Linked DNA regions of Homo sapiens. The protein of the gene in region 3 interacts with the protein of the main gene of each other region in a pairwise test. Each region holds a gene or a part of one and is shown on either strand. Other genes may lie near its edges.

What was found.
Region 1: the proteins of AGR2 (region 3) and FAM117B interact in binary tests that used the Homo sapiens proteins (3 or more experiments, as listed by UniProt).
Region 2: the proteins of AGR2 (region 3) and NRF1 interact in binary tests that used the Homo sapiens proteins (3 or more experiments, as listed by UniProt).
Region 4: the proteins of AGR2 (region 3) and TFAP2D interact in binary tests that used the Homo sapiens proteins (3 or more experiments, as listed by UniProt).

Annotation. Positions count from the first base shown.
Region 1 is NC_000002.12:202,629,979-202,638,259, forward strand, and holds the start of FAM117B (protein FAM117B), read left to right. Parts: upstream 1-4,990; 5' UTR 4,991-5,209; coding exon 5,210-5,810; intron 5,811-8,281.
Region 2 is NC_000007.14:129,607,379-129,615,281, reverse strand, and holds the start of NRF1 (nuclear respiratory factor 1), read right to left. Parts: upstream 3,563-7,903; 5' UTR 3,458-3,562; intron 1-3,457. UniProt on the Homo sapiens protein: Transcription factor that activates the expression of the EIF2S1 (EIF2-alpha) gene. Links the transcriptional modulation of key metabolic genes to cellular growth and development.
Region 3 is NC_000007.14:16,794,602-16,801,999, reverse strand, and holds part of AGR2 (anterior gradient protein 2 homolog precursor), read left to right. Parts: intron 1-196; 5' UTR 197-203; coding exon 204-342; intron 343-616; coding exon 617-680; intron 681-796; coding exon 797-849; intron 850-2,182; coding exon 2,183-2,256; intron 2,257-4,305; coding exon 4,306-4,369; intron 4,370-6,980; coding exon 6,981-7,064; intron 7,065-7,398. UniProt on the Homo sapiens protein: Required for MUC2 post-transcriptional synthesis and secretion. May play a role in the production of mucus by intestinal cells. Proto-oncogene that may play a role in cell migration, cell differentiation and cell growth. Promotes cell adhesion.
Region 4 is NC_000006.12:50,765,242-50,772,982, forward strand, and holds part of TFAP2D (transcription factor AP-2-delta), read left to right. Parts: intron 1-7,403; coding exon 7,404-7,623; 3' UTR 7,624-7,741.

The DNA.
Region 1 (8,281 bases), on a different chromosome or scaffold from region 3:
TTTTTGTTTTTAGATACAAGGTCTCACTCTGTCACCCAGGCTGGAGTGCAGTGGTGCAATCATGGCTCACTACACCCTCAAACTCCTGGGCTCAGAGGATCCTTCCACCTCAGCCTCCTAAGGAGCTAGGACTACAGGTGCGTGTCACCACACCTGGCTAAAACATATGTGTATATATATATGTGTGTGTGTGTATATATATATGTATGTATTTTTTTTTTCTGGGTGACAGAGTCTCACTCTGTTGCCCAAGCTGGAGTGCCGTGGTATGATCTCAGCTCACTGCAACCTCTACCTCCTGAGTTCAAGCGATTCTCGTGCCTCAGCCTTCCGAGTAGCTGGGATTACAGGTGTGCGCCACCATGCTTGGCTAATTTTTGTATTTTTAGTAGAGAGGGAGTTTTGCCATGTTGGCCAGGCTGGTCTCAAACTCCTGGCCTCAAGTGATCCATTTGCCTTGGTCTCTCAAAGTGCTGGGATTACAGGTGTGAGCCATTGCACCAGGCCCTAATTTTAAAAGTTTCTGTAGAGATGGAGTCTTGTTATGTTACTCAGGCTGGTCTCAAACTCTTGGGCTCAAGCAATCCTCCCAACTCGGCCTCCCAAAGTGCTGGGATTACAAGTGTGAACCACTGTGCCTGGCTTTATTTTCTTTCTTTTTTGAGGCAGGGTCTCACTCTGTCACCCAGGCTGGAGTGCAGTGGTGTGTTCACGGCTCACTGCAGCCTTGACCTCCCAGGTTCAGGTGATGCTCCCATCTCAGCCTCCCGAGTAGCTGATACTACAGGTATGCACTACCATGTACAGCTAATTTTAAAATTTTTTGTAGAGATAGGGTTTTGCCATGTTGCCCAGGCTGGTCTTGAACTCCTGGGCTCAAGGCATCTGCCCACCTAGGCCTTCCAAAGTGCTGGGACTATAGGCACTGTGCCTGTCCTCAGGCCTCTATTTTCATGTCAGTATTTTATAAAAGGTGTATGCCTTTTATACGATTAATTATTATAATTACAATGGATGCATACTTTTGATTTTTTTCATTTAAAGTGAAAGGAATTTGTGATTTCATAATTACCATTTTGATGGCTGTATAATGTTCCTTCAATGACATTTTAGAGGTCTGTAAGTGGATACAGCTGATTCTAGAATAACTAAAGGAAGAAAAGAAACCACTACAGGACAATAAACTTTTTCATAAAACCCATCTTCTTTTACCACAGCAGGATCATTGTAGAGTTAAGCAAGCACAGGAGCAAATGAGCCTATCAATAATTTTGTCTTTTGAAGTTTAAATACAGACAAACCAATTCCAATATGTTGCTTTTTGTCTACAATTTTATGTAGTCACGTTTCAACCTCGGAGAGAAAATGAGAAAATTTGAATTATATCCTAAGAAGAGCAGGGTTAAACTAGAGGGAGATACGTTTATTTTGTTGATCCTTGAAATACAAGGACTCTCTTTGTAGATAAACCAGCAAACTAAAAACCAATACATCACCTTGATGCACATTGTTTTCTTTGAATCTTCAACAATAGATAATGAAGTCAAGAGTAAATGATGCTTTTATTCATTGCCATTAAATCTTAAAAACAGACTGAAGAGCTCTAAGTTATCGAAGCAAGTTTTTCTCTTCTTTTTTAGCATTCTTTAATAATTTAATACTTTTTTAAAAATTATTTTTATTTTTTTGAAACAGTGTCTCACTCTGTCTCCCAAGCTGGAGTACAGTGGCATGATCTTGGCTCACTGCAACCTCTGCCTCCTGGGCTCAAGCGATCCTCCTACCTCAGCCTCCCAAATAGCTGGGACTACAGGCATGCACCAGCTAATTTTTGTAGATACGTGGTTTCACCTTGTTGGCCAGGCTGGTCTTGAACCCCTGAGCTCAATGATCCCCCGGCCTTGGCCTTCCAAGGTGCTGGGATCACAGGCATGAGCCACAGTGCCCTGCCAAATTTCATGGTTTCAAAGCTTTGATTTACAAGTCATCACAAATATCCTTTAGTACAAAGGGTGCTGAAGTGGTTAATTACCTGCTTTAATTGAAGTGCTCTCATTTGTTTAAAGTTAAGCCCTACACTGATGAGTGAGGTAAGCTATCAAATAAGATGAAAACAAATTTCCTGGAACTGTAGGTTTGAGTTTCTGTAGGAAACATAACTAGAAGCAAAAGGCGAAATGGCTCCATCAGATCTCATGACTGAGCCAAGGACATTTTTTTAAGCTCTTTGATCTAGTGAAATCAGTTGATTTAATGAAATCTAATAAGATCTGCTGAAATCAGTTCTTCAGCTCAGGCAAGCTAAAAGCCTCTTGCCACCAACAAAGATGTCTCTAGTTTGGTGATATCCAAATCAATTGATCAGGAAGCTAAGGACACCAGGGCTGCAGGACTTCCTTTGGATTAATTCAGTAAATATGTATTGAGGTCCTACTTTGTGCAAGACAAAATACCACATACCACATACAGCCTCCATGAGTTATTTATTTCAGAGTCTGGCTCTGTCGTCCAGGCTGCAGTGCAGTGGCGAGATCTCCGTTCACTGCAGCCTCTGACTTCCGGGTTTCAAGCTATTCTCTTGCCTCAGCCTCCTGAGTAGCTGGGATTATAGGCATGTGCCATCATGCCTGGCTAATTTTGTATTTTTAGTAGAGACAGGGTTTCGCCATGTTGGCCAGGCTGATCTCGAACACCTGACCTCAAGTGATCTGCCTTGGCCTCCCAAAGTGCTGGGATTACATCCTTATTTAAAGGCATATCTTGTCTATCCATGCTTTTCAGACCAGACTTGGCTCTTTGCATGGATCCTGCTGGCAGTTTCCTGTATGTTCCTATCCAGTGAGAAGCTGTTTTTGGCCTCACACCAGGCTGTAGGGGCCAGATAGTGACGTCAGATCTATCCAGAGCACCAGCCAACTTAAGGCAGGTTCCTGGGCTAAGGGGCTGGGGCTTTCTCTGTGGAGGGGGAGAGAGGAGGAGAAAGGGGAATGGATGGTAAGGAGAGATGTGGGTCTCTGAATCACATGGAGACTCTGGAAGTGCTGACCATCTTCTACACACCACATTCTCATATCATCCTTGGTTAATAATCATAACAACAGTATGAAGCACATGGTACTGTTTAACTGCATTTTACAGATAAGGAGACTGGCTAGTGATCCACTCAAGGTCACAGAGTAAGTGGTGGTCATGGGATTTTAATTTCCTCTCTAGGTCTTTTTTTTTTAATTTTTTTTTTTTTTAAGACAGAGTTTCGCTCTTGTTGCCCAGGCTGGAGTGCAATGGAACGATCTCGGCTCCTTCCAACCTCTGCCTCCCGGGTTCAAGCGATTCTCCTGCCTCAGCCTCCCGAGTAGCTGAGATTACAGGCATGTGCCACCACGCCCGGCTAATTTTGTATTTTTAGTAGAGACGGGGTTTCCTCCATGTTGGTCAAGCTGGTCTCGAACTCCCGACCTCAGGTGATCCGCCCGCCTCAGCCTCTCAAAGTGCTGGGATTACAGGCATGAGCCACCACACCCGGCCTCCTCTCTAGGTCTTTAAAAGCCTTCCACCTCACGCCTGTAATTCCAGCATTTTTGGAGGCCGAGGTGGGCGGATCATGAGATCAAGAGATCAAGACCACCCTGGCCAACATGGTGAAACCGCCTCTTTACTAAAAACAGAAAAATTACGGGGCGTGGCGGCACGCGCCTGTAATCCCAGCTACTTGGGAGGCGGAGGCAGGAGAATTGCTTGAACGCGGGAGGCGGAGGTTGCACTGAGCCGAGATTCGAGCCAGTGCACTCCGCCACTGCACTCCAGCCTAGGTGACAGAGAGAGACTTCTTCTCAAAAAAAAAAAAAAAAGGCCTTCCACCACCGCGCAAAGGGACCCAGTAGGATTTCAGGTCCAGAGTGAATCATACTATGCCCTCCACTCCCACATTTTTACACGACGAAATCTGTCTAGCATGTACAACTAATAAAAATAGTAGAGGGAAAAGAGGTCATGGATAGGCAATTTATAGCCAGACAGGTGGGAGTGTAGGTTTTGGCTCCACCATTTTTTATTTTCTTGATGAGGAGCCCTTTAGGTCATTTTAGAAATAGTGTCACTGCCTGCCTTCCCGAGTCTTTGCCACACCAAAGACTTGTTTCCTCCGCTAGACAAAAATATGGATGGCTGTCCCAGTTCTGTCTCAAACAATGATCGTGTAGAATCAAATAAGGCCCTCTGTAAACTATAGCACTTTACAAACTGGTAAGGTAGCAGCCATCCTTCCAAGGTATCAGGGAACAGCGAAGCAGCTGATTAAAATAGTCTTGATTACTTGAGATACAGGAGGGTAGGAATAACATGTGGTAACTGAACTCTATAGATACTATCTAAAATCGCATTCTAACAGGCAAGTTTAATCTTTCTGAGATTTGCCTCTTTGTAGAGCTCTAAAAAATAAAAGGAGAGGGGCGTAAAATGCCAGTAAGATTAGTTAAATTTCTTCTCCTTTTGAGCCCTGCCCATAGGTAGATGGAATTAGGGCAGAACAAAAACATTAAGAATAAAAGCCCGAACGAGATGCGCGTACAGGTGAACACAAGTGAACACTGGGGTAAGGAAATGAGTTATGCGGAAAAGGCTTCAGACCATCCCTGGGAACTGCTCCGGGTCTGGACATTTCCTTTGGCAACCTTCCAGAGTCTGAGTCCCCAGGGCTCCCCCCGGCGGGAAAGGAAAGGCGCGCGTGGCTAGGCGCGCGCGTACACGGGCACTCACGTGTACACACACACGCGCGCACACTACACATACACACAGGGCCCATTTCCTCCGCTCCCTCCCCGCGGGGGGCGGGTCTCTTTCTCTTTAAAGAGCAGACGGTCTCCGCGCACACCCAGGCTCTCAAGGCCTCGGGGGCCCGGGACCCGAGCTGCTCGTAGCCAATGGGAGCAGTGGAGCGGCTCGAGCGCGGCTGACGCTGCACCAATGGGCGATCGTGGGGGGCGGGGGCAGCAGAGGAGACACTATTGTTGATGAGGAGCGGCGGCGGCGGCGGCGGCGGCTGCACCACCTCGTTGCTGCCTGCCCCGGCCCGGTCTCCCCCTGCACCCCGGAGTCCGGCTTCGTCACCCCGTCTTGGGGGGCCTGCCCTCCGGCCTCGAGAATCCTCCCCCTGCAGCCCAACAACAACAAAACCCCCCGTCTCGCCCAGTCACCGGGGAGGGGGGGGACCATGTCCCAGCGGGTGAGGCGCAATGGGTCCCCCACGCCGGCCGGCTCCCTTGGGGGTGGTGCGGTGGCCACGGCCGGGGGACCCGGGAGCCGCTTGCAGCCCATGAGGGCGACGGTTCCGTTCCAGCTGAAGCAGCAGCAGCAGCAGCAACATGGCAGCCCCACGCGGAGCGGCGGCGGCGGCGGCGGCAACAACAACGGTGGCTGCTGTGGTGGCGCCTCAGGCCCCGCAGGCGGCGGCGGCGGCGGTGGCCCGCGCACCGCCTCGCGCAGCACCAGCCCCACGCGCGGCGGCGGGAACGCGGCCGCGCGCACCAGCCCCACGGTGGCCACGCAGACGGGCGCGTCCGCGACGTCCACGCGAGGCACCAGCCCCACGCGCAGCGCCGCGCCTGGAGCTCGCGGGAGCCCCCCACGGCCGCCGCCGCCGCCGCCGCTGCTGGGCACCGTGTCGTCGCCCAGCTCGTCGCCCACCCACCTGTGGACCGGCGAGGTGAGCGCGGCCCCACCCCCAGCCCGCGTCCGGCATCGGAGGAGGTCTCCGGAGCAGAGCCGAAGCTCGCCGGAGAAGAGGAGCCCCAGCGCCCCGGTTTGCAAAGCAGGTAAGTGCTGGGGGTCGCGCAGCAAGGGGGAGGCGGCTGCGGGAAGGGGTCCCGGGCGCGCGCTGCAATCGCGCGGGGACTGCAGAGCTGCCGCGGAGCCCGGGTGGCTGGGGGCGGGGCTGGGGGCGGTGCCGGGCGGTGGGGGACCCGGCAGTGCGGCCCCGCCTTTCCCGGGCCTACCCTACGCCCCGCCCGCCCGCCCGCCTCATTCACCCCTCTGCCCGCCCCGCACGGCTCCCTGGTGGTGGAGGTGCAGCGGCTAAACCTTGGGCTTGAGCTGATGAGTGTTAATGATAAACCTGGCTTCCTGGCCTTACTCCTGGAGGAGTCGTTACTGCTTACCCTCCCTTGAGGGTGAGGCTAGGAGTGGTTTGTCACTTTGTTTTAGGGACAAGGTTAATGTTGGCATAGCCCATATCTGCTGCTGCTAAGTATTTCTGTTCACAAAACAGTTTCAGATCTGGGGTACTGAATGCATTAGCAGTGGCAGATTTGGATCACTGAACAGAGGAGGCTGAGAACCGTGTTTTAGCATTTCCTAAGACTTGATAAATGGGTAGCAAGAAGTGAAAATTAAACAAGATTCCTTAGGAAGGTTTATGGGTTTTGTCTGAGGCTCTGGGTGTATTTCTGATTTTGTGTACTGATTCTGTGTTTTGAATGTAGAAAAACAGAATCCAGTGTTTTGTCTCCATCTTGTTATTGTTTTAGGGAGCTAACATTCGTTGTTTTTCTGTTTACCTGGAAGCTTTCTTGGGGAAGGTCCTGAATGGAGCTGTTGGGTGCCAATGGAGTCATTCATAAAGAGTAACTCAAAAGAGAAATTCAAATTGTGGGAAGTGGAAAGGAATAAAATTTATAATCTTGTTGCCTTAAGGAAAGAAATGGGTGGTTTTTACTTACGTATTCATTTTTGTCAACATATATCTTTGTCTTTCCTTGTCTGGGGAACTTCTGTTAGAATTTTCCAGGCAGAATGGTTGGGAATTTCAGGAAACAAATTCAGATGAAATAGTTTCCGAAATGGAAGGAATAGGATGACTCTTTCTTACTATTTATTTTATGAAAGTTTTAGATAATACTTATTTAGAGAGAATTGCCCTGGAAAATGATGAATAGTATTTTCTTTTTTTGAGACAGAGTTTCTGTTGCCCAGGCTGGAGTGCAGTTACACGATCTCGGCTTACTGCAGCCTCCAACTCCCGGGTTCAAACGATTCTGCCTCAGTCTCCTGAGTAGCTGGGATTACAGGCGACCGCCACCATGCCCGGCTAATTTTTGTATTTTTAGTAGAGACAGGGTTTCACCATGTTGGCCAGGCTGGTCTCGAACTCCTGACCTCAGGTGAAACGCCCGCCTTGGCTTCCCAGAATGCTGGGATTACAGGCATGCGCCACTGCGCCCGGCCCGAATAGTGTTTTCTAATTAGAACCAGAGCACTGTTTTATTTATGTATTTATTTTTATTTATATTTTTATTTATTTTTTGAGACGGAGTCTTGCTCAGCTGCCCAGGCTGGAGTGCAGTTATGTGATCTCGGCTCACTGCAACCATGGTCTCCTGGGTTCAAGCGATTCTCCTATCTCAGCCTCCCGAGTAGCTGGGATTACAGGCACCCGCCATCATGCCCGGCTAATTTTTGTATTTTAGTAGAGATGGGGTTTCACCATGTTTGCCAGGATGGTTTGGAACTCCTGACCTTATGTGATCTGCCCGCCTTGGCCTCCCAAAGTGCTAGGATTGCCCAGCCCAGAGCACTATTTTAAACCTTTTGAGAATGCAGAATGCTTTTCTAAAACTGTGATAAAAGTACTAGATTTCCCCTCCCTGCTTCATAACCTCTGTCACCTACTGAACTCTTACTATTTGGCAGGTGGTTTTTATGCAAAATCTCATTTAACCCTCACTATAGCTTTTAGAGAGGTTAAGTAACAAGTGGCAGAGTTGGTATTTATTTGAACTTTGGTCAGTTGTACTCCAAAGACCATGTCTTTATATTATATCAAGGAAGTGACATCATGATGTGTAAGATAGAATGTGGGAAATATATAGCACACCAAAATTACATGTACTTAGTTAGGTAACTTTTTTTTTTTTTTTTTTTTTAAGATGGAGTCTCACTCTGTCACCTAGGCTGGAGTGCAATGGGGCAATCTTGGCTCACTGCAACCTCTGCCTCCCGGGTTCAAGCGATGCTCCTGCCTCAGCCTCCCGAGTAGCTGGGATTACAGGCATGCGCTACCACGCCTGGCTAATTTTGTGTTTTTAGTAGATACAGGGTTTCTCCACATTCGTCAGGCTGGTCTCAAGCTCCCAACCTCAGGTGACCTGCCGACCTCGGCCTCCCCAAAGTGCTGGGATTACAGGCATGAGCTACCGCGCCCAGCCACTAGTTAAGTAACTCTTACAGATATGAACAAAACTGCTTCAGTCCTTCAGCCTTCTGGAGCCAGCATAGTGCATCAGGTGGA
Region 2 (7,903 bases), about 110 Mb from region 3:
TCACAGTGGCACTGTGTGAATGAATAAGCCTGCTTCAGCATGAAGCAACAGGCTTGTCTAAAGACATCTGACAGAAGCTGAATGTATACATTAACTTCCTGTTGAGGTAGGACTGTAGACTGTTTCTAAAGACTGACAGTTCATAGTTCCTCCAGAAACCAAAAAATCAGCATGCCTTTTCAAATACTCAGGGAAAAATTTTAATTTCAGTAATTACTGTTCATTGTTATTATTCTTCAACTTTACTGAATGCCTTATTCCATACAAGAAAAGGCATAAAAATTTAATCCCAGACCACAGGAGCTTAAATTTCCCTTAAAACAAGTCACTCATTCGTGATTATTTACATAAAATGCTTCTAAAGACAACCCAGAGATTTGGTTGAACCTACAGTGTGCAGGCAATGCAAATTCAGGTATTTAAATCATGGGAAGTTGGCCTTCGGTTCCCTAACAAAATTAGACAAGTGCATAATTATCGTTTAATAAAACAAAAAACCTACAATTTGGGGTCCTAACGACATACACAGGAATTCAGAAGGAAACCTGAAATCCTTTCTCCTTTAAACCTTCTATATCTGGACAAGGGCCCTCATTATCTTCTACTTCTATAGCTCCTTCTCTTAACACAGGAGCTAAATTTCCTTGAAACATGTTATGAAGCCACTGCCAGCACGGTGGCACTTGCCTATAGTCTCAGCTACTGGGGAGGCTGAGGTGGGTGCATTCCTTGAGCCCAGGAGTTCAAGGCCAGCTTAGGCAACATAGCAAGATCCCCATCTCTAACTTAAAAAAAAAAATTATATATATGTATGTACACACACACACACACACACACAAATACATATTTTTATAAGAAAATTATTGGGCCAGGCGCATTGGCTCATGCCTGTAATCCCAGCACTTTCGGAGGCCAAGCCCAGCAGATCACCTTAGGTCAGAAGTTCGAGACCAGCCTGGCCAACACGCCAAAACCCCGTCTCTACTAAAAATACAAAAATTAGCCGGGCATGGTGGCCCACGCCTGTAATCCCAGCTACTCGGGAGGCTGAGGCCGAAGAATCGCTTGAACCCAGGAGGCAGATGTTGCAGTGAGCCGAGATCGCACCACTGCACTCCAGCCTGGGTGACAGAGTGAGACTCCGTCTAAGAAAAGAAAAAGAAAAAGAGAACTATTTCCACAAAAATTGCCGACTTGGGGATAAGAACTTTTCTTTGTTACAGGAGACTATGACCACTGACTACTAAGCAAAAAGTCATTTTCCCTCCTATATGTCGAGTTTGAGGCTGTGTGAGGAAATTAAAGGACTTCAAATAAGGATGGGCCAAAAGATTAAGTAGAGTTTTTGTTTTTGTTTTTTTAGATGAAGTCTCGCTCTTGTCCCCCGGGCTGGAGTGCAATGGCGCGATCTCCATCTCGGCTCACTGCAACTTCTGCCTCCCAGGTTCAAGCGATTCTCTTGCCTCGGCAGCCCCCGCCCCCGCCCCTCCCAGCAGCTGGGATTACTGGCGCCTGCCACCACGCCCAGCTAATTTTTGTATTTTTAACAGAGATGGGCTTTCACCATGTTGGCCAGGCTGGTCTCGAACTCCTGACCTCAGGTGATCCACCCCGCCTCGGCCTCCCAAAGTGCTGGGATTACAGGTGTGAGCCACCGCACCCGGCCGTAAAGAGTTTTCTTAATCTGATTATTGTTTTTTTTGGTCATGGGCCCTGTTGAAAGCCACTAAGTCCTATCAAAAGAAAAAAAAACCCCTTGACACAAAAAAATTCTGCCCACAATTTAGGATCCAAGTTAAGAATAAATATTCTACATTGCATGTGATAATTATGTCTGCTTTCGGACTCATAAAATAAGGAAATTACACTCAGATGCACGGAGAGAACTAGTCATATTTTCACTGTCTTACGGGGTAACCTGTCAAGAACTGTCAAATACAATTTTAGGGAGTCGGGATACTAATGAATCAAACACACACACACACACAAACAGCATCTCCAAGACTCCAGCACCCCCCTTTCCCAATTACTTACTGGTCAAGCCCAAAGGAAAAATAATTTTTTAAAAGGCTAGGCTGAGATGGAATGGGAAAAAGGATCACTGTGAGCACAGATGATGTCCCGGGACAAAAGCTCTGCCCAACACTGCCCAAGCTGACAGGCTCACTCACACTACCTTTCTCCTTATGCGTCTCTCAATACGCAGTCTCTGAACACTTAAAAAAATGTGAATTTTGCTCTGACCACATAAAGAAATCAGCACGATTGACACCAGCTCTAAAATAAGCAATTAATATATTCTAATCTAATGCTTAAGAAGAATGGAGAGCAGGCAACAGCTCCTCCAACTGGTTGGAGCAGATATCACTGGAAGCCCCCCAAGTATTAAGATTTTTAAACAACTTCAAGTTCTGGTGGGCACAGCCAAATACACTGCAGAAACTTTGGGACCAGCAGCCACGACACAACAGGTGAGAGAGGCAGCAGACATCATTGCACGATGGAGTGCACAACATTCAATGACAAACCCGAAAAGGTCTGGGGATATGGGAAAATACCATGCACACGGCCATCTCAGAGCCCCTGTCTTTCCAGTGGCAAAAGGTTCTGTTCCTTCGGAGGGGCGTGCCACTCCCCCTCTCCCTCACCCAGGGGACCACCACCCCAGGCACAGGAAGAACCGCGGCCCCTCCGCGGGCACATCTCAGCTGGGGAAGAAAACACAATGTCGCTCCTTATTTCTGCGTACAAAAGGACTTTGCGCCCTCCTCCTCGAACTGCCGCCCCGGCCACCTCCTAACTTGCAAGAAGGTGGGCAACGCGCCATATTCCAGCGTCCCCCAGTCTACCTGGGTAACAAGCCCACGCCACCCCGGCAGGAGGGAAGCTTCGGAGGTCGCCCAAAGAGCCAGCCTCCTCTCCCGCAGGAGACAGCGGCTCCCGCGCCCCAGCCCGGCCCCACCGCGCCGCCCGCCCGCCCGCCCGCGTACGAGAGCCGGGAAGGGCCGAGGGGGCGAGCCGAGAGCCGCGGCTCCGGTCCCGCGCAGCCCGCCCACCTCCCGCTCCCGGGCCCGGCGCACTCTCCCGCGCCTCCCGCTCCCGAGCTGCGGGAAGGCCGGGCCCCGGGTTCCACGGCGGGGAGAAGGCCGCGGCCCCGAGAGCCCCAGGCGGCGGAGGAGGCCGGAACCCTGGGGCTCTCGGGAGGGCAGCGCCTCCCTCCCGAGCCCGCCAGGACGCCTGGGGCCTAGTGCGGCCTGCGCATCCTCGGGGTGGCGGTTTGGCTGGGCCGGGCCGGGGCCCCCCGCCCGAGGCGGGCCGAATCCGGCGGGGGCCCAGGCCCAGAGCCGGGGGCGGCAGGGTGCCGGCTGCGGGGCGGGCCGGCCGGCCGGCGGGCGGGCGGCGTGTTGCGGCTGCGCCGGGGCTGAAATAGCTGGAGATTGCGCGGTAGGGCACTCACCTCAGAGCGGCTGCGCTACCGTGGGCCTGCGCCGTGGAGACTGCGACCGCGCCGGCTCCTCGCAGCCTCCTGCCACCAGCGGCAATGGCGAGCGCTGCCGCTTCTGCCGCCGCCGCCGCCGCCGAGGAGGGGGAGGGGAGGGAGAGGGCACGCACGCGACGCACGGCCCGGCTTCCCCGCCCGGCCGCCGCCATGATGAGGAGGTCGGCGCGGCTGTGCTGCGGGCAGGCAGCGGAGAGGGCTCGCGGCGAGGGCTCCAGCTTACCCCGCCGCCGCGTCGCGTGCACGGAGCGCTTCAGAGGTTTGGAGGGGGCCGGAACCTCAAAAGCAACTGGATGAGCACAACGCGGACGCCCCGGAGAAGCGGCGCAAGCGGGCCCAAAATGGTTGCTGATCAGACGAGTGGCATCTCTCGCCCCCCTACCGCGGGAATTGGGACCTCCAGACTGTGCCTGGGGGATCGGCAAGTGGTTCCCCTCTGGTTTTTTCGGCGCTGCCTTCCCGGTGGTATCCTCACTCTCTCTCTTTGAAATGACCTCTGCTTTCCTATCTCTAACTCTTCCCAGATATTTGAAAGCAAGTTTTTGTACAAAGCAACATATGAATGTATTCAGCCATTCGATCGTTCGGCGAACATTTCTAGGTGTCTCGTGCTGTGCCAGATATTGTTCTGAGTGCGCTGAAGATGCACCTGTTAGCAAGACAAAGTCCTGGCTCCCACGGAGCTTATTCGAAGCAATAGGGGCCCCCAAGCAGGTGCCTGAGAAGTAGGGAGGGGTGGACAGTGGGAAAACAACCTAACGGTGGAGACACACGAGGGGTCTTTTTTTACTTTTAGAAACGGGGGTGGGTGGTCACCCTATGTTGCCTAGGCTGGTCTCGAACTCCTGGGCCCAAGCGATCCTCCCGACTCAGCCTCCCAAAGTGCTGGTATTACAGGACACCATGCCCGGCAGAGGGGTCGTTTTTGTTGTTTTTTTAGTGTCGTCAGGAGACTCCCTCCATCAGAATTACTCAGGCTGATTGTTTTGAGTCCTGGGACCCAGTTGGTATCCAGAATCTTGGCTTGTTTGCCTAGGAACCTGCATTTTCACATCCCCATCTCCACACCCCTGGTGATTCTTATGCATATAATAATGTGAAAAGCATTGCATTGAAGAATTGCTAAAGGGTGTCAGAAAACGGATTAACAAAATCAGGAAGCTTTAATTTTCAAGATTCTATTAACCTCAAAATTCAACATATCCAAAAATTGAATGTCTTTTTCTCCAGTGTTTTCTAGGAGAGTGCCAACACTAGCCACCCAAGTGCTCAAGCCAGAAACCTGGAAATGATCCATTACTCTTTCCTCTGTCTCTGGAGTCCCCATGTTAAATTAGATGTGTTTGTTTGTGAGACAGATTCTCACTCTATTACCTAGGCTGGAGGGCAGTGGTGCAATCATTGTTCACTGCAGCCTCGACCTCTCTGGGCTCAAGGATCCTCCCACCTCAGCCTCCCCAGTAGCTGGGACTACAGGTCCCCACCACCACGCCCGGCTAATTTTTGTATTTTTAGTAGAGATGAGGTTTCATCTTGTTGGCCCGGGCTGGTCTCGAACTCCTAGGCTCAAGTGATCTGCCTGCCTTAACCTCCCAAAGTGCTGGGATTACAGCCGTGAGCCACTGCACCCAGCCCCAATTAGATTTTTAAAACTGTTGTTCCCTGTCAGTTCTTACTCTGGTTCAGGCTACTGTCATCTCTCCTAGAGACACTGCGGTAGACTCCTCTTGGTCTCCCTGCCACCGAAATTGCCCTCTCCAAATCCACTACAGCTTGAATGGTCTTTCAAGAAAGAAAATCATGTTTTTTCCCTGTTTAAGACTCTTAAAAAGATCTGATTAACACGTAGGATAAAGTCTAAAATTCTTTGAGGTGGCTACAGGGCCATTGGTGATCTCATCCCTGTTGCCATCTCTGACCTCATCTGCCACAGATATTTCTCAGGCTACACTCAAAACTGGGAAGCTCTCAGGTCATTTAAGCCTGGAAATTGTGCCACCTCACAACTGTTGCAAGGGCTGTTCCCTTTGCCCATAACTTCATTTCTCTCTACACCATCTATGCACTTACTTGAATCCTCACCTGAATAATTCTTACCATTCTTTCAGATCCCAACATTAATACCATCGCCTCCAGGCAGCATTTTTTCATCTCCCAAGATTGGGTGCATTAGACCCTTTGTCATCACACCCAGTACTCCCCACGTTTATTGAGCGCTCACGATGCGTCAGGCCCTAGTGGAAGCCTTTATGCACATTATCTTCTTTCTCATTTAATTATCAAGTAGAGCCCACAAGGTAGGTACTACCTTTTTTTTAACTTTTGAGACAGGGTCTCACTGTATCTCCCAGACTGGAATACAGTGGCGCAAACACAGCTCACTGCAGTCTCATCCTGGGCTCAAGCAATCCTCCCATCTCAGCCTCCTGAGTAGCTGGGACCACAGGCAGATGCCTGTTGCCCAGGCTGGTCTCCAACTCCTGGGCTCAAGCCGTTCTACCTTAGCCTCCTAAAGTGCAGGGATTACAGGTGTGCAACTGTGCCCGGCCTGGGTAGTTACTAATATTATCCCATTTTACAGATGAAGAAACAAGGACATATAGGGGTTACTTGCCCAAACCCAGACAATAAGCTAGATCTGAAAGTCATCAGCCTGACCTCAGAGTTGTACTTTTAACCATTATCAGGGTCTCAGGCCAGTACCCACTGATGAAACACATAAGTAACTTAGTGGGTCATTACCAACATTTCATTAAAGAAATAGAAAATGGCAGAGAACATCAAACTTAGTAAGGCTCTTGTTTCGTGAAACTTGTCAGATTCTCTAATATGATAAATACTAAATCTTACAAACATTGAAAATACAAAATTAAACAAAATATTACCAAGGTTAACACAAAAGTATGAATACTGCAGATCTGATTTATTTTACTATCCTCATCTTTAATGCAGAACCTTCTTAGGATTAAATGACATTTACCATTCTGAGCAAACTGAGGTTACTGCCCCAAACGGACTGGGCTTACCTTTGCAGGAGAACAGGGGAGGCTGTGTTTTGGCTGGAGATTTTTGGCTAAGAGTCAAGACACAGAGATTCTTCTGCTACCACTGTGAACACATCAAGTCCCTTTCACATAGATGCTGTTTCCACAAGGGTCTCCCCACACCCTTCCCTACAGATTAGATTCCCGTGATGCCTTATTTAATTCTTGTTGGATCTGTTGATTTGGTTATGAAGTAGGTGAAATTCTGGTAACCTCACCCAGGTTCCTTCCCCTCTTGATTAGATCCAGCCAGTCTGTTCGCTGGATGATTAAATTTGGCATTCATTTTTCTGTGCTTTCCCTATCTGCTACTATCCTAAAGTCATTCTAATGACCAAAAAAGGTGCCTTGAGCCAGACTGTAGAGGGTTCTAATGGCCTCCTTAGAAATTGTGTTTTTTTGTTTTTTTTTTGAGATGAGGTTTCGCTCTTGTTGCCCAGGTTGGAGTGCAATGGTGCGATCTTGGCTCACTGCAACCTCCGCCTCCCGGGTTCAAGCGATTCTCCTGCCTCAGCCTCTCAAATAGCTGGGACTACAGGCATGCGCCACCACGCCCGGCTAATTTTGTGTTTTTAGTAGAGACGGGGTTTCACCATGTTGCCCAGGCTGGTCTCGAACCCCTGACCTCAGGTGACCCACCCACCTCGGCCTCCCAAAGTGCTGGGATTACAGGCCTGAGCCACCATGCCTGCCAAGGAACTGGTTCTTAGTAGGCAATAGACAGTTGACAATTTTGAGCTAAGCACTAAGGTCATAGGAGTGTAGATTCACCAGGGAGTGAGTTGGGCTTCTGGTCTCTAGAGGGCGCTCAAGGCTTCTCCCTCCCCACCCTCTTCCTTCCCCCAAGGTGGAGGTAGGATGGTGAAGAAATTTCATCTCCCCACCACCAAACACACACAAAGGAAGAAAATCTTACTAAAATTGGAGAATATGGAATAACATTTTCTTGGGATGGAGCCCTTAAAAGATAACACGTTCAACAGAAAGTGCTGCGTCTTTCCCGTTCTTCAACATACTCTGAGTGGTAACAAGGGCTGCCCTTGCCTTTCTCAGAGGCAGCCCAGCCAGCTTGTTCTCTTTCCCTCTCCCACAAGGTAGCCAGGCCCTAAGGCTATGGCCCACAGAAAAAGTCTTAGCAAGGCCCCGGGCTTGGGGCAAAGAGGCTGTGGATTTGTCTTTCTCTCTACTTTTTCTGGTTAGTGTGCCTCTATCCCACTCGGAAGAAAAGTTCCAAGACTCAAATTTGGGCATTGATGTGGGGAGGATAGACAGAGATGACCAGAATCCAGCCTATCTTTCCTGACTTCTGCATTGTGGTTCATACCCAGCTAATAATAAAGTGTTCCTTTCCCTGGTGTGT
Region 3 (7,398 bases):
TACTCAATTGTAAGTCAAAGACCACCTGTATTCTTAGGAAAATCCCATGGAACAGAGCTATTTACGCCAATCTCGTATGTCCAGTCTCAGCAGAGCCTCAGTTTCTGGTATATTCCACCGTTGTGGGGCAACCTGCAGACCCTGAAGACTGCTAGTTCAATTTTGTTTACTGATTTTGGTTGGTTTTCCATACTAGAGTTGCCATGGAGAAAATTCCAGTGTCAGCATTCTTGCTCCTTGTGGCCCTCTCCTACACTCTGGCCAGAGATACCACAGTCAAACCTGGAGCCAAAAAGGACACAAAGGACTCTCGACCCAAACTGCCCCAGACCCTCTCCAGAGGTAGGAGTCAGCTTCTTGTTGGCTTCCAACTGCTACTTAATTGGAAAAGATTTCCTCTCTCTTGGTGCTTAAACCTGGTTCTAACCTGGTGCCAGGTTATTTTTGGTTGTGTTCCTTCTAGACTTATCACTGTTTATAATTATTTCTACTTTCTCCAGGGGTTTTTCTTCTTCTTTAGTATAGGGTCTATTATCCCAGTCTTTACCATTGCTTTTCAACAGCTTTGGGTCTGAATTTATACAAGCTTCAAATATACTGATTCATTTCATTCTAGGTTGGGGTGACCAACTCATCTGGACTCAGACATATGAAGAAGCTCTATATAAATCCAAGACAAGGTAAAGATCAGGATTACTCAGAGCTCCCTCAAAGCTCTCAAGAGCACCACCTAGTGACATCTAGATATATGTGAAATCTTACTCATTAAAATTTGTCTAATCTCTGTCTTTTAAAGCAACAAACCCTTGATGATTATTCATCACTTGGATGAGTGCCCACACAGTCAAGGTAATTTATTCTTCTAAGTATGATTTCCTTTATAGGCTTTTAGCCTTAGGGCCAGGGTTCAGATCACTCATGTTTGTATCTTTAGAACCACAGTTGCATTAAAGAAAGAATATTTTATATAGTAAAAACATATTTAAAAGTGACTTCAAATATCTCCACATTTTGTGATAACCATTGGTACATATTTTGAAAAACTAGTTTTAGGATTCATCTTCAACTTCTTGATTTCTCTTACAGTCCACATTCAATACACCAGCAAATACTGGCTTTATCTTCAAAATATATCCTTAAACCAGCACCAGCTTCACAGGCATGAAGCCTGTGCCATCTCACAGGGCCCCAAGCTTAGAAGGTTCCCAAACTTGGTTTAAACTTGGCTATCATTGTCTTAAAAGTCTTAGTAATTCTTCAACAAGGGGCTCTACCCTTTCATTTTGCACTGGGCCCAAATCCAACCACTTCCTATTGCCTCCATGCTACTGCCCTGGTCCAAGCCCAGATCAGATCTTGTCTAGACTACCATAACAGTCACCTAACTGGCCACCCTACAGCCAGTCCACACAGAAGCCAGAGTGAGGCTGGTAGACATAAATCAGATTCCATCACTCACGTGCTCAAGTGGCTTCTTATCACAGAACTAAATCCAAATTTCTGATCACAACCTATGAGGCTGACATGATCAGGCCAATGGCTATCTCTCCCTTCCTACCACTCTCCTCTTGCTTTCTTCACTCTCTCCAGCCTGGCCTTCGTGCTGTTCCTCCCACAGGTGAGCTCATTCCCACCTCACAGCTAGTGCTTTTGCAGTTCCCCCTGCCCACAGTGGCCTACCCCAAAATGGACCACTCCCTCACTTCAACGTTAGCTCCTCAGGAAGATCTGCCCTGACCACTCACAGTTTTTAAACCCTTTGCTTTGCTTTATTTTTCTTCAAAGTACATATCTCTACCTGAAAGTATCATCTACTTATTTCTTTGTTTATGGTTTGTCTCCCACACAAGTATGTGAGCTCTGTGAAAAAACACATGCTTTTTTTTGTTCACTGCACCATCCCTAGTACAGAACACAGTGCGTAACACATGGCAGCCATTCAATAAATATGAGCTGGAGAAAAAAATGAATTGATGAATGAATGGATGAATGAGTGAATAGAAAGCAGAGGTAGTCAATGCCATAGATATTACTTCACTAATCATTTGCTAAAAGGCCAAAGTAGAATACTGTATTTAAAATGCAATTCAATAAGTAAATAAAATGCAATTTAACTGAAAATTGAACAAAGCTTTTAACCAATGCTAAGATGGATGCTTAATGATTTTTCTTTATATTATAGCTTTAAAGAAAGTGTTTGCTGAAAATAAAGAAATCCAGAAATTGGCAGAGCAGTTTGTCCTCCTCAATCTGGTTGTAAGTTTCCTTTTCATCATTACTAACATTTCTCTATGGCTCATTACTTGAAATGGATGATTCATTTTTCCTATACATCTTAGTTATACTGCATTAACTGGGATTGCTTCCAAATATCCCATCTCATAAATTAGAGAGAAAAAAGATATTTCGTTGTATTAATAATCCATTTGGTGTGTCTGTTTTTATTTAGTAATTAATCATCTTAGTTTGTCTGAAAAATTATCTCCCGTAGTCAGAATTTTTTCTGTTGCTGGAAGGTTTTTGTTACTTGCTGTGCCTGTCCCTCTATAGTCCTGGCTTCTCTACACCCATTCTTAATCCTGGTCATCTCTTGGGAAGAGACAGCTCTCTGGCTTTCCAACTCTAATCATGCCTCTTGTGCTTTAGCTTCATGCATTCCCACCTTACTTCACCACTACCACCCCTCACGGTGCTCAAGCTTTCTGTCTCGGCAAGTTCTTTTTACTGTATACAAATGTTTCATTTTCCTTCTAAAAGCAAGCCAACAAAAAAATGACTCTACCTAATCATATGTCCTTTTGAGCCCTCCGGCCCTTCCTCTTCACAGGTTGGCTTCCTTAAAGACCACTTCGCACCAGTAGTTCTTCCTTGCCTCTCTTCCATGGGCTCTTCCTCTTCCTCTTCCTACTCCTTAATGTGAGTGACATGATGAATCTCTACTTGACCCTTTTCTCTTTCCATATTTTGTATTCAGTGAACAACTCCATCTACAACTGCCTTTAATCAATTCCGACACACTAATAATTCCTACATCTTACCCAAACATGAAACAACTTCCAAATTGTCTATCCAACCATATTCCAGATATCTCATAATCAGCTTAAACTCAGTATGTTCCTCACTGCACATTAATCATCTTGGTTTGCGCTTTTCCAATAGCTCTTCTTTCTCTATTCCCTATTTTACTGAAAGTGGTACTGTGCTAGATTGGACTCTCCTACTTACCTACAGCATGCAATAAGCCCTGTGCTTCTAAATTCCAAGTATTCCTGCTACTAGTCACTTCTCTATAAACTCAGGACCACTATTTTAGTAAGCCTCTTTCACTTTCCCTAGCTTACTGTAATACTGCTAAATGGCTCCTGGTCTACAAGATAAACTCTGTCTAATCCCACATGGCTGTCAGAGAAGTTGCTTTACAGACCAAACTGGGGTCACAGTGCCTCTTCTAACATCCCTCCAGTGGTTCTTAACTATTTCTGAACAAAGGAAAACACTATGGCATGGTGTGCAAAGTCATTCCTAAGCCGGCCCCTGAAGCAGCTCTAGCACCTTCTTTCGCCACTGCCCTCGTGCATCCCCCCAACTCAGTCCTTCCCCAGCACTTGGCCATAGGAGAAAATGCTCCACCTGTCCTCTCCATACTCTTCCCCCTGCATGAAGTGTCTTTCTTTTCCACCTAACTGACTCCTGTTCATTTGTAAAGATTCCTCCTTATCCACTTCAGAAAGTCCTAGTCGGGGTGGAATCTGCATTCTGGGCTAAATGTCTTGCTCAAGGCAATCACCAAACCTGCATATCCTACACCGTAACATTTCACCCACTGCATCCTCAATATTCATTTTCCTACCTGTATCTCTCAATAGAGTGTGCATTCATTAAAGATAAGCACCATGCCTTGCTAAATACAGTTCTAAATAAAAATTGATAAATGGATAAATGAATACTCAAGAAAATCCCGTACTTGTCTCCGTAATTTCTCTAGAAATGACATCTGCTTTTTTCCTTAATAGCCTCTTATTTCATCCCAGATGTCTTCCCCAAACACAGTAACTCCTTCCAAATTCTCCCTTAATTTTTTTGCTCTTTATCACATCCATTCAGCACTTTATCTCATGTTCTGCTCTATCTTATTTATTATTTCATGCTTGTAACTTGTCTCCTCATCTGTACAATAAACTCTGTGTGGAAGAGTTATGATATCTTGAGATGCCTGGCCGGAAATGGACAGATTCTTGTATTAACAAGTTTGAAAACGACTGAAAAGTCAAAGTAAACTAAAAGATGCTTTTCTTTTTATTTTAGTATGAAACAACTGACAAACACCTTTCTCCTGATGGCCAGTATGTCCCCAGGATTATGTTTGTTGGTAAGCGGAAGTGACAGTGAGATAACTCGGAAACACATACTAGTGCTGCCATCCTCCTTCTCTCCTCCCCACTGTCCCTTGCCACGTTGCCATGGCCAATGTCATCACTAAGCTCTAGCAAGGAGCATGACATTCCTTTAAGTTCCGCAACATATTTTCTTTAGAAAATGTGAGCTTTTACCTATTTCCACACAACACTTTCTTTTCTCACATGCTAATTGTAACTTTTCATCTTCTGCTATAATACTTCTGAGAACAAAGCACCCTATTCACTATTTAAACATATTGATAAATTTCCTGAATACGAGAGGCCTGCAAATATTTATTTTTTAATCCAGCAAACTTTCACTTTGTGTGTTAGATTTTTCTGACATTTTTTATCATTATTTTTAAGAAAGTTAGGAATAAGGCTGGGTGGCTCACGCCTGTAATCCTAGCACTTTGGGAGGCCAAGGCCGGCAGATCACTTGAGGTCAGGAGCTCCAAACCAGCCTGGCCAACAAGGTGAAACCCCATCTCTACTAAAAAATACAAAAAAAAAATTAGCCAGGCGTGGTTGCAGGAGCCTGTAATCCCAGCTACCTGGGAGGCTGAGGCACAAGAATTGCTTGAACCCAAGAGGCAGAGGTTGCAGTGAGCCGAGATGGCACCACTGCACTCCAGCCTGGGCAACAGAGCGAGATTCTGTCTCAAAAAAAAAAAAGGAATATGAGGTGGGAAAAAGAAATGAAAGGAGCCACATGCTCCTTCCTGCCACTGGTACTTTTCATATGCTTTCCCCACTTCCTTCTCTGTCCCCCAATTTCACATCATTAACTCCCCAATCATCATTATTCATTGACCGAGTCAAATCCCTACTATGTGCTCTTGTAGTCATACTTTCCTCAGGTATAATTTTGCAGTTTGGGGGTGGTTATGTAATAAATATTTCCCACATTGGACTATAAGCCCCTATGGCAGGGACTGTACCTATTTCTGCTCACCATGATATTCCCAACGTGACCCTGCAGTAGGCTCTCCATCAATATGTGTTTAATTATTGAATGAATGTACTGAGTTTGGCTTTGTTCAAAGTCATACTGATTTAAGGACAATCCATAATGAAATCCATCACTTACAACAATTCATGCTAATCATATGATTCACCTGTGTAATTCATTAAAAGTTTACACTGAATGTACAAAGCAGGGAAAAGAAAAACAAGAAATAGAAAAAAAGGAAGAAGGCTGAACTAAAGCACTAATTTTATAGGTTTAGTTTTGTCAGAATTTAGGACATTTGGAATCCTAACATTAAAAGGGAATTTATAGATGTCTGTTCATACCTTGTACAGGAATTCTTTGTACAGCATCCCTGTGGAAGGGCATTTTAACCCACATTCAATTCCTTCAGTCCTAAGAACCAGCTCCAAGGCAGCTTGCTCTTCTAGCTCCGTAGTAGCCACCCTGACTACATGTTTGAATCACCTGGAGGATTTTAAAGATCAAGTTGCCCAGGCCACACCTCAAACCAATTAAATCAGAATCTCTGGGGGTGGGAGGCAGGCATCCATAGTGTTTACAGCTCTCCAGATGATTCCAATGTGCAGCCAGGTGAGCTGCTAGTTGGGTATTTAAAAAGCCCTTCTTAGGTTAATTTCTTACAAAGATTAGACCGTGTCTTTGTATCCTCTGCACCAAACAGAAGTATAGTTGGTCTTAAATCTGGTGAATAAATGTACATCTGCTTCTTGTAATTTATGTGTCTGGCCTTAGTCCAACATTCTGAAATGACAGATTGCCCACTCCAGTACCAGCGACAGACTTTGCAAACATGCAGATGGTTCTCACATGTCTTCCTTGTCTCATTTTCAGGGCACGTGTCCTAGGTTCTTTCGATTACGTCTCTCAAGGCAAGGTTTCCAGATCTCTCTGTATCCTCACGCTTCCCTTTTGGATGCACCTTAATTTTAAAATACCTCTTTTTCTCATTAATTAGATCACTTCAAGTTAAATACAAAACATGGCAAGATGGATTTAAATTTAGAGGGATATAAGTATACATAAGAGAAGACCAATCTCTACTTTTAAAAATGCAGTTAATTAACAATAAAGTAAAATATAGTGAAGGTACTATATGCTTATTTGAACTTTGCTGTTGTTAAGGACTTGCATTCCTCTATTAACTTTTTTTAAAAAACTCGTTTTGAAAACTAGCATTGGATGTGGGTTTCCAATGATCTAGAAACATGTAAACTACAACATAATCGTTTCAAGAATTTAAAATAATTTTGCAGTAGAGAATGTTAATGTTTTCACCAAAAAAAAAAAAAACACCATGTCACCCCTAAATATATATTATTCTGTTTTCAGGTTGCCATAGATAGAACAGAAGGGTTCATAACCTTTTCCACAAATAGCACTGCACAGCTGTTGATGTTTCCAGCCCTGCATTTGCTACTAACTGCCAGGGGCTGGGTAGTAGAGTGGATGGATCAGAGCTCCTGTGAGTGCAGACACACTCCATTCCCTCACAGGACATGAATACATGAACTTCAGCTCCCCGGGGCAATAAATACAGGTTGTTTGAAAACAAACCATTCCATTCCCTTTTGCTTCATTTATCTTTGCAGACCCATCTCTGACAGTTAGAGCCGATATCACTGGAAGATATTCAAATCGTCTCTATGCTTACGAACCTGCAGATACAGCTCTGTGTAAGTGTGACCTTCAATTCGGATGTTGCCCAAGAGTTGAACACCTCTATTGCTGTAGTGATGGGACTAGAGGCTGCATGGTGAGGTGAGAGAGAGCTAGGCTTAGGGACGCCTCGGACTCAGTTTGACCCTAACTAGCCTTGCATCTTCAGGCAAATCACACTCTTTCCATCTCAGGTTTGTTTGTTTTTAATCTCAATTGAAGATGAATTATTTAGATTAGGTATCTTTTTCTCTAGGAGGATTCTATGACCACATTACCTGATTTTCAGGTTTTCTGTTAGGTACACGAGCACACACTCCTTCTATCACAGAACTGAGTGTAATAATTGTA
Region 4 (7,741 bases), on a different chromosome or scaffold from region 3:
TCAAAATGGCAAAATTGCCTTCTTTGTTATGGCTAAATAATTTTATATACATCTTGACTATTAGAAATAATGCTGCAATGAACATGGAGTTTAGATATCTCTTTCAGATACTGGTTTCATTTCCTTTAGATATATAACCAGAAATGGGATTGCAGGATCATGTTGTCATTCTAATGTTTAAGTTTTTGAGGAACTTTCATAGTGTTTTGCATAATGGCTGCGCCAGTTTGCTTTTCCACCAACAGTGTGCAGGGTTAACTTTTATCTACACCCTCACCACCACTTATTTCTCAGCTTTTTGAAAATAGCCATCCTAACAAATGTGAAGTGATATCTCATTGTAGTTTTAATTTGTGTATCACTGATTAGTGATGTTTAGCATCTGTTCATATACTTACTATCCATTTGTATGTCATCTTTGGAAAACTGTATGTTTGTGTCCTAAGCCCATTTTTAATATCAGGTTATTTGTTTTTTTTTTCCTATTGAGTTGCATGAGCTCCTTATATATTTTAGATACTAATTTTTGTACCAAATGTATGGTTTGCTAATATTTTCTCCCATTCCATGGGTTGCCTTTTCATTTTGTGATTGTTGCCTTTACTGTGCAGAAGTGTTTTTCATTTGACCTAATCCCATTTCCCTATTTTTGGTTTTGTTGCCTGTGCTTTAGGTGTCATGTCCAAAAAATAAAGCCAAGACCAATGCCAAAAATATTTTTCCTTCTAGGAGCTTTATAGTTTTGGTCTTTTATTATGTTTCAGTTTTTAATCAATTTCAAGTTCATTTCTGTGTATGGTGTATGGTGTAAGATAAGGATCCAATTTTACTTTTTTGCATGTGGATACTCAGTTTTTCTAGAACCATTTATTGAAGAGACCATCCTTTTCCCATTGTGTATTCATTAAGATCTTGTCAAAGATTAGCTTACTACATATATGAGGGTTTGTTTCTAGACTCGTTCTGTTCCATTGGTCTATGTGTCTGTTTTTATGCCAGTACTATACTGTTTTGATTACTATAGCTTTGTAATATAATCTGAAATCAGTAGCATGATATTTTCATCTTTGTTCTTGTTTCTCAAGATTGCTTTGGCTATTTAGGGTCTTTCATGGTTCCCAATGAATTTTAGTGTTGTTTTTCCTATTTGTGTGAAAATGCTGTTTAAATTTTGGTAGGGGTTGCACTGAATCCATAGATTGGTTTTAGTATGGACATTTAAAAAAATTAATGCTTCCAATCCATGAACACAGGTTATCGCTTTCCATTCATTCGTGCCTTCTTTAATTTCTTTCATTAGTGTCTTATAATTGTTAGTATACAGATCTTTAATCCTCTGTGGTTAAATTTATTCCTAAGTATTTTATTCTTTTTGATACTATTTATTCCTTTTGATACCATGAGATTGCTTTCTTTTTTTTTTTTTTTTTTTTTTTTTGAGACGGAGTCTCGCTCTGTCGCCCAGGCCGGACTGCGGACTGCAGTGGCGCAATCTCGGCTCACTGCAAGCTCCGCTTCCCGGGTTCACGCCATTCTCCTGCCTCAGCCTCCCGAGTAGCTGGGACTACAGGTGCCCGCCACCGCGCCTGGCTAATTTTTTGTATTTTTAGTAGAGATGGGGTTTCACCTTGTTAGCCAGGATGGTCTCGATCTCCTGACCTCATGATCCACCCGCCTCGGCCTCCCAAAGTGCTGGGATTACAGGCGTGAGCCACCGTGCCCGGCCTGCTTTCTTAATTTCTTTCTTAATTTTTCACATAGTTCACTGGTACTGCTTAGAAATGCAACTGATTTTTGTATCATGCAACTTTATTGAATTCATTTATTATAACAGTTTTTCACAGAGTCTTCAGGATTTTCTAAAATCATATCATCTGCAAACAGAAACAATTGAACTTTTTCCTTTCTGATTTGGATGCTTTTTATTTCTTTCTGTTGCCTAATAGTTCTGTCTAGGACTGCCAGTACTATGTAAAATAGTAATAAAAGTGGTAAGAGTGGGCACCGTCTTCTTGTTCCTGATCTTAGAAGAAAAGTTTTCAGCTTTTCACTATTGAGTATGATGTTAGCTGTAGGCTTGTCATATATGGTCTTTATTATGTTGAGGAACATGATTTACCACTTGTAGTAAAAATCTGATATACCTGGATTGTCAGTTTTGCTCTGATGCTACCAATGTTATTCCCATTCCTCTTCCTCACTTTGTGACAGAGAGTTTAGCCTCACCTGTTTTCTTCCCATTGTCCCCTCTGTGCTATAGTTTTACATTTGTTTGGGGATTGTTACTTCTTTCTCCCAGGAATTTTATTTAAGTCCTCTCATCACTTTGGCAAGTTTCTATCCTTTGGAAGTAACACACCTGTTTTTCAGGCATGAGGAAACTAATCCCTTTTTCATCAGTATCATCAAAGAAATTGTGAGTTTCTTTGAGTGGAATTTCAATTGGCTGAGAGAGGGAGGACACACAAACACACAGAAATAGGAATAACGGTCATGTTTGGGTATTAAAAAGAGATAAGCTTGAGATAAACTTTGCAAAAATAAGGTAATAGAGCACGTGATTACATAGGGTGAAGGAAGGCAACCTAGGAAACATTAAGAAAACTGATATGACCTGTGAATCCTCTATAGTCACTGTTCTTTTACAAATGTAGCATAGACATGACTTATCTAACACAATGCAAGTTGTCTCCAGGGCCTCATTGAGGATAGAGTTTTAGAATTTAGAATTTAAGTAACTTCTATATTTTGACTGCCTATTTCAAACCATCATGGGCCATTTAACCCTGGTGATATTTGCATGTGAAATGCGCTCTCATCAGTAATCTGGTGAAATTATATGCAAATGCCAAGGGTAACTTAAATATCAAACCTGTAACTGAAAAATATTTTCCAAAGTTGAAAATCATCTCTATTGTCAAAGAGTTTGAAGATTTGACTATAGTTCGTTACCTTGCAGGTGACCTTAGTCTTATTTTTTTTTTTTTTTTCCTGTCTAGGATCAAAAGTCAGACCTTCTATTTCTAATTTTCTTTTTTTTTTTTTTTTGGAGATTCTACATTATTCCTCTCTCCTTTTCTTTTTTCTCTCCCTTTTTTTTTTTTTCTTTTGAGATAGAGACTTGCTTTGTTGCCCAGCCTGGAGTGCAATGGTGCAATCGTAGCTCTTTGTACTCTCAGGTTCCTGGGCTTAAGTGATCCTGCCACATTGGCATCTCAAGGCTCTGAGATTACAGGCATGAGCCACTGAACCCAGCCCCCTCCTTTTCTGTATGTCACTGTGAATGAGATACACACCTATTTTTCTGGATGACTGGGGCTAAAAGAATAGCATGATGTTCCCAGAACTTTTTAAAACATACTGTGATTGCACACTTCTTTTTACATTATTGTAGTACATTAGATTACTTTAATTATTTGGGGTTCATAAATTTCACTGAAAACTGCTAGAAAAGAATCTTTGCCTTACATTTATTATCATTCTGTGCAGTGTGCTATGCATATTTTTAATATGCAGGTAATGTTAAATTAGGTAATTAACAAAATTTACATAATGTTTTTCATATTGAAAGATGACCTTTCAGGTCATGAAAGTCAAAATGACTTTTTTTTATATTGAATATCCTTCAATTGATTTTAGAGTTCTTTGTTGAACGAAGTGGCTTTTTTTTTTTTTTTTTGAGACAAAGTCTCCCTCTGTTGCCCAGGCTGGAATGCAATAGCACGATCTTGCCTCTGCCTCCTGGGTTCAAGCGGTTCTCCTGCCTCAGCCTCCTGAGTAGCTGGGATTACAGGCATGCACCACCACACCCGGCTAATTTTTTTTTTGTATTTTTAGTAGAGACAGGGTTTCACCAGTTGCTCAGGCTGGTCTCAAACTCCTGACCTTGTGGTCTACCTGCCTTGGCCTCCCAAAGTGCTGGGATTACAGGCATGAGCCACTGCGCCCAGCCCTGAAGTGGTTTTTCAACTTCCATAACCTGTGTCCATGTCCTTGATTTTAATAACACCATAAAGATGTTATACTCTTAAATTGAAGCTTAGAGTTGGAAAGAACCTAGCAGATGTTCTTGTTAGACTACTGTCATTTTACAAGGCTAAATAACTTCCTCCAAATCACGAAGTGCCTGACGTCAAAGCCAGTGTGAGGACTTGGTACACTTGGTTCTCAATCCAAGGCAAAGATGACAATGCAGACTGCTAATGATCAGATCCATATTTTGGAACAAGAAAGCCCATCAGTCAAGAAGTGATACCAGCTTAAGAGGAATCTTTAAATATGGAAACAGCTCTTTTCTCAAAGTGGATAATAAAAGCATTTATATATAACTACCTACCTGTGCTTGATTTTTAAAAACCCTGCTCTTAGGCAGGAAAGTGAGTAAAAAGCATCTGATTTTACCAGCCATCAAGGCTGCCCAAGTACAAAGTTAAGTCAGAGGAACTGAGCTAAAACTGCCCACAGAAAATGTGATTTCTCAGAGAAAAATGTACCCTCAGCCTGGGAGGAACATAAGTACAGAATATCCAATTTCTCAGGCAAATTATTTAACTTCTCTGGGACTCAGTTCTTCGTCTGTAAAATGGAAATAATATTATCTAGTTCTTAGTGTTGTAACTAGAATTATATGAAGTGATACAGATAAAAAACTTAGAACAGGACTTGACATATGTTCAGAACTCAAAAATTAGATATTAACTTCAATAATACCCTGTGAAACTAAATAATATTGTATATTCTGCTATAGATGAAGAGGTGAGTCACAACAAAGAGGACATGCCAATATAGAAGAAAATTTAAAAAGGAGCTCTAAACAGGAATAAAACATGAGAAAAGAGACAGTTTGTGCCTGGGGTCAAATATCTGGACATTAATGGTTGGCTTTACCCAGTTCTTTTTGTGGGTATCACCATGATTAATTCTTCCACCACTCCAACAATTCCATTTGTTGTCCAAGATCCCAGATAGATTTCAAATTATTTGGCTTCCCCTCTAGTTGTCTCATTGTAGAAATAGAGCTTAAATTATTTTTCCTGTTTGGCAATGCAAGACCTTGTAGCAGAGGTGTGGATATAGTAGTTGAGCAGTGATGATGTCTTACACCACAAACTTTGGTGCAGATAATTGCCCAAGCATTGGCCATTGTTGTTTCCCACATAATCAGAGATGGGAATTTTTTTTTCTTTTTAATATATGTTAACTATGATGGAGGCTCAGGGAAGAAAGATGGTAACAACCTATGGAATAATGAGGGACATGCAGAAATTTTACCCTCTACCCAGAAAATATACCCAGCCAACAATCTCTATCATTTATCTAAGACTTTGTTTAGATCTGCATCCTTCTGAGCCCTTTGCGTAGACTAATAAAAACAACAACCCCACATGGTAGATCTTACTATTACCTCCACTGAGGCATATTAATAGGCTGCCTTAAACCCCAAATCCTTCATTTGTATTATTATAAAATATTATTATTTTTGCTGTTAAAGATTATGTAACTTAAGAAAGAAAACTATAGGTAGCTAAAATATTATGAAGGGTGGTATATCTGATTCAAAAACTACTAATGTCATAATAACAGTTACAAGCTAGGACTTTAGCAGTTAATGGCTTTATTAAATGTACTATACACATATGCACAATGTTGTATATATATATATATTATAACATGGGCATACTATGTGACAAGGATGTTTTTCTATATTATTATGAGACGTAGGAAGCAAACTGGTAGTGTCACTTCGGGACAGTTAACATAAGTGAACAATCTGGGTAGCTTCTGTTCACAAGAAGACTAAATCTACAGTTATGTGTTTGTTCAACCAAAGATGACATTTGTCGTGGTTGGAAGAACTACCTATGCTGAGGTTACCATAACATTCCTTATATTTGCTTATTAGTTTTTGTTATTAGTTAATTAGTTAGTTTTCGGGACCTAAATGTTGGGTGGCTTACATAAGACAGGGTTTTATTTCTCTCTCATTTAGGAGTCTGGAGATGAATAGGTTCCTTCTAACTTGTTTTGTCCCTGCCACCTAAGCGATTATCTACATAGGGCATAGCTACCCTTTTAAGCAAGTGGGAATTGCATGTATCACTTCTCTTTATGTTACATTGTGGGTAGGTTAAGTCCCATGTCCAAAACTCACTGCAAAAGAAGCTTGGAAATGTAGTCTCCAGCTGGATGGCCATATGCCCAGATTAAAGTGCATTACTATGGAAAAGGAGAATGAAGTCAGAGGGACAGCTAGCCATGAGGCACACTCAGCCAATTATGATTTCTTCATGTGTAGTCTATGCCATATATGCCATTCTTGAAAGCAAGATGTTTCCACACATAGAATCTAAAGGTGTGTTTTCCAGCTACTTCTTAATGAGGTGGAGAATCAAGTCATGTGTTAAATATTTAGACTTGGTAATAATTAGTGCGTATCAATCAAAACCACAATGAGATACCATCTCACACCACTTAGAATGGCGATCATTAAAAAGGAAACAACAGGTGCTGGACAGGATGTGGAGAAATAGGAATATTTTTACACTGTTGGGGGGACTGTAAACTAGTTCAACCATTGTGGAAGTCAGTGTGGCGATTCCTCAGGGATCTAGAACTAGAAATACCACTTGACCCAGCCATCCTATTACTGGGTATATACCCAAAGGATTATAAATCATGCTGCTATAACGACACATGCACACGTATGTTTATTGCGGCACTATTCACAATAGCAAAGACTTGGAACCAACCCAAATGTCCATCAATGATAGACTGGATTAAGAAAATGTGGCACATATACACCATGGAATACTATGCAGCCATAAAAAATGATGAGTTCATGTCCTTTCTAGGGACATGGATGAAGCTGGAAACCATCATTCTGAGCAAACTATCGCAAGGACAAAAAACCAAACACTGCATGTTCTCACTCATAGGTGGGAATTGAACAATGAGAACACTTGGACACAGGAAGGGGAACTCACACACCGGGGCCTGTCATGGGGTGGGCGGAGGGGGGAGGGATAGCATTAGGAGATACATCTAACGTAAATGATGAGTTAATGGGTGCAGCACACCAAGCTGGCACATGTATACATATGTAACAAACCTGCACGTTGTGCACATGTACCCTAGAACTTAAAGTATAATAAAATATATATATAAATAATAATTAGTGCATATCAACTCTATTAACGACAAGTCTTCCAAACTGGTCCTACATTTCTTACATAGTCAAGAGCAATACCTTCAACTGTGTTGTATCTTCCACAATGCTTAGCATCATTTAGGAACACAATGAATACCTGTTTAATTGAATGTTCTGAATTATATGGAGAGATTTGCTATTTCACATGATACTGCAAATCATTCACCTCTTTTTTCCTATCACTTCTCATTTCCAGTTTGATCACTCATGGCTTTGGGACTCCGGCAATATGTGCAGCTCTAAGCACTTTCCAAACAGTTCTCAGTGAAATGCTGAACTACTTGGAAAAACACACTACTCACAAGAACGGCGGAGCGGCGGATTCTGGCCAAGGACATGCCAACTCGGAGAAAGCTCCCCTGCGGAAAACTTCAGAGGCTGCCGTGAAAGAGGGCAAAACAGAAAAGACAGACTAGCTACATCAAACAGAATCTATTTCCAGAGAGTCTTGCTGCTGATATTTTTTCTAATATATATATCATTGAGGGTGACTAATCTTCAGTGGACCAAATCTCTACCCTTCCCCAACCCTCC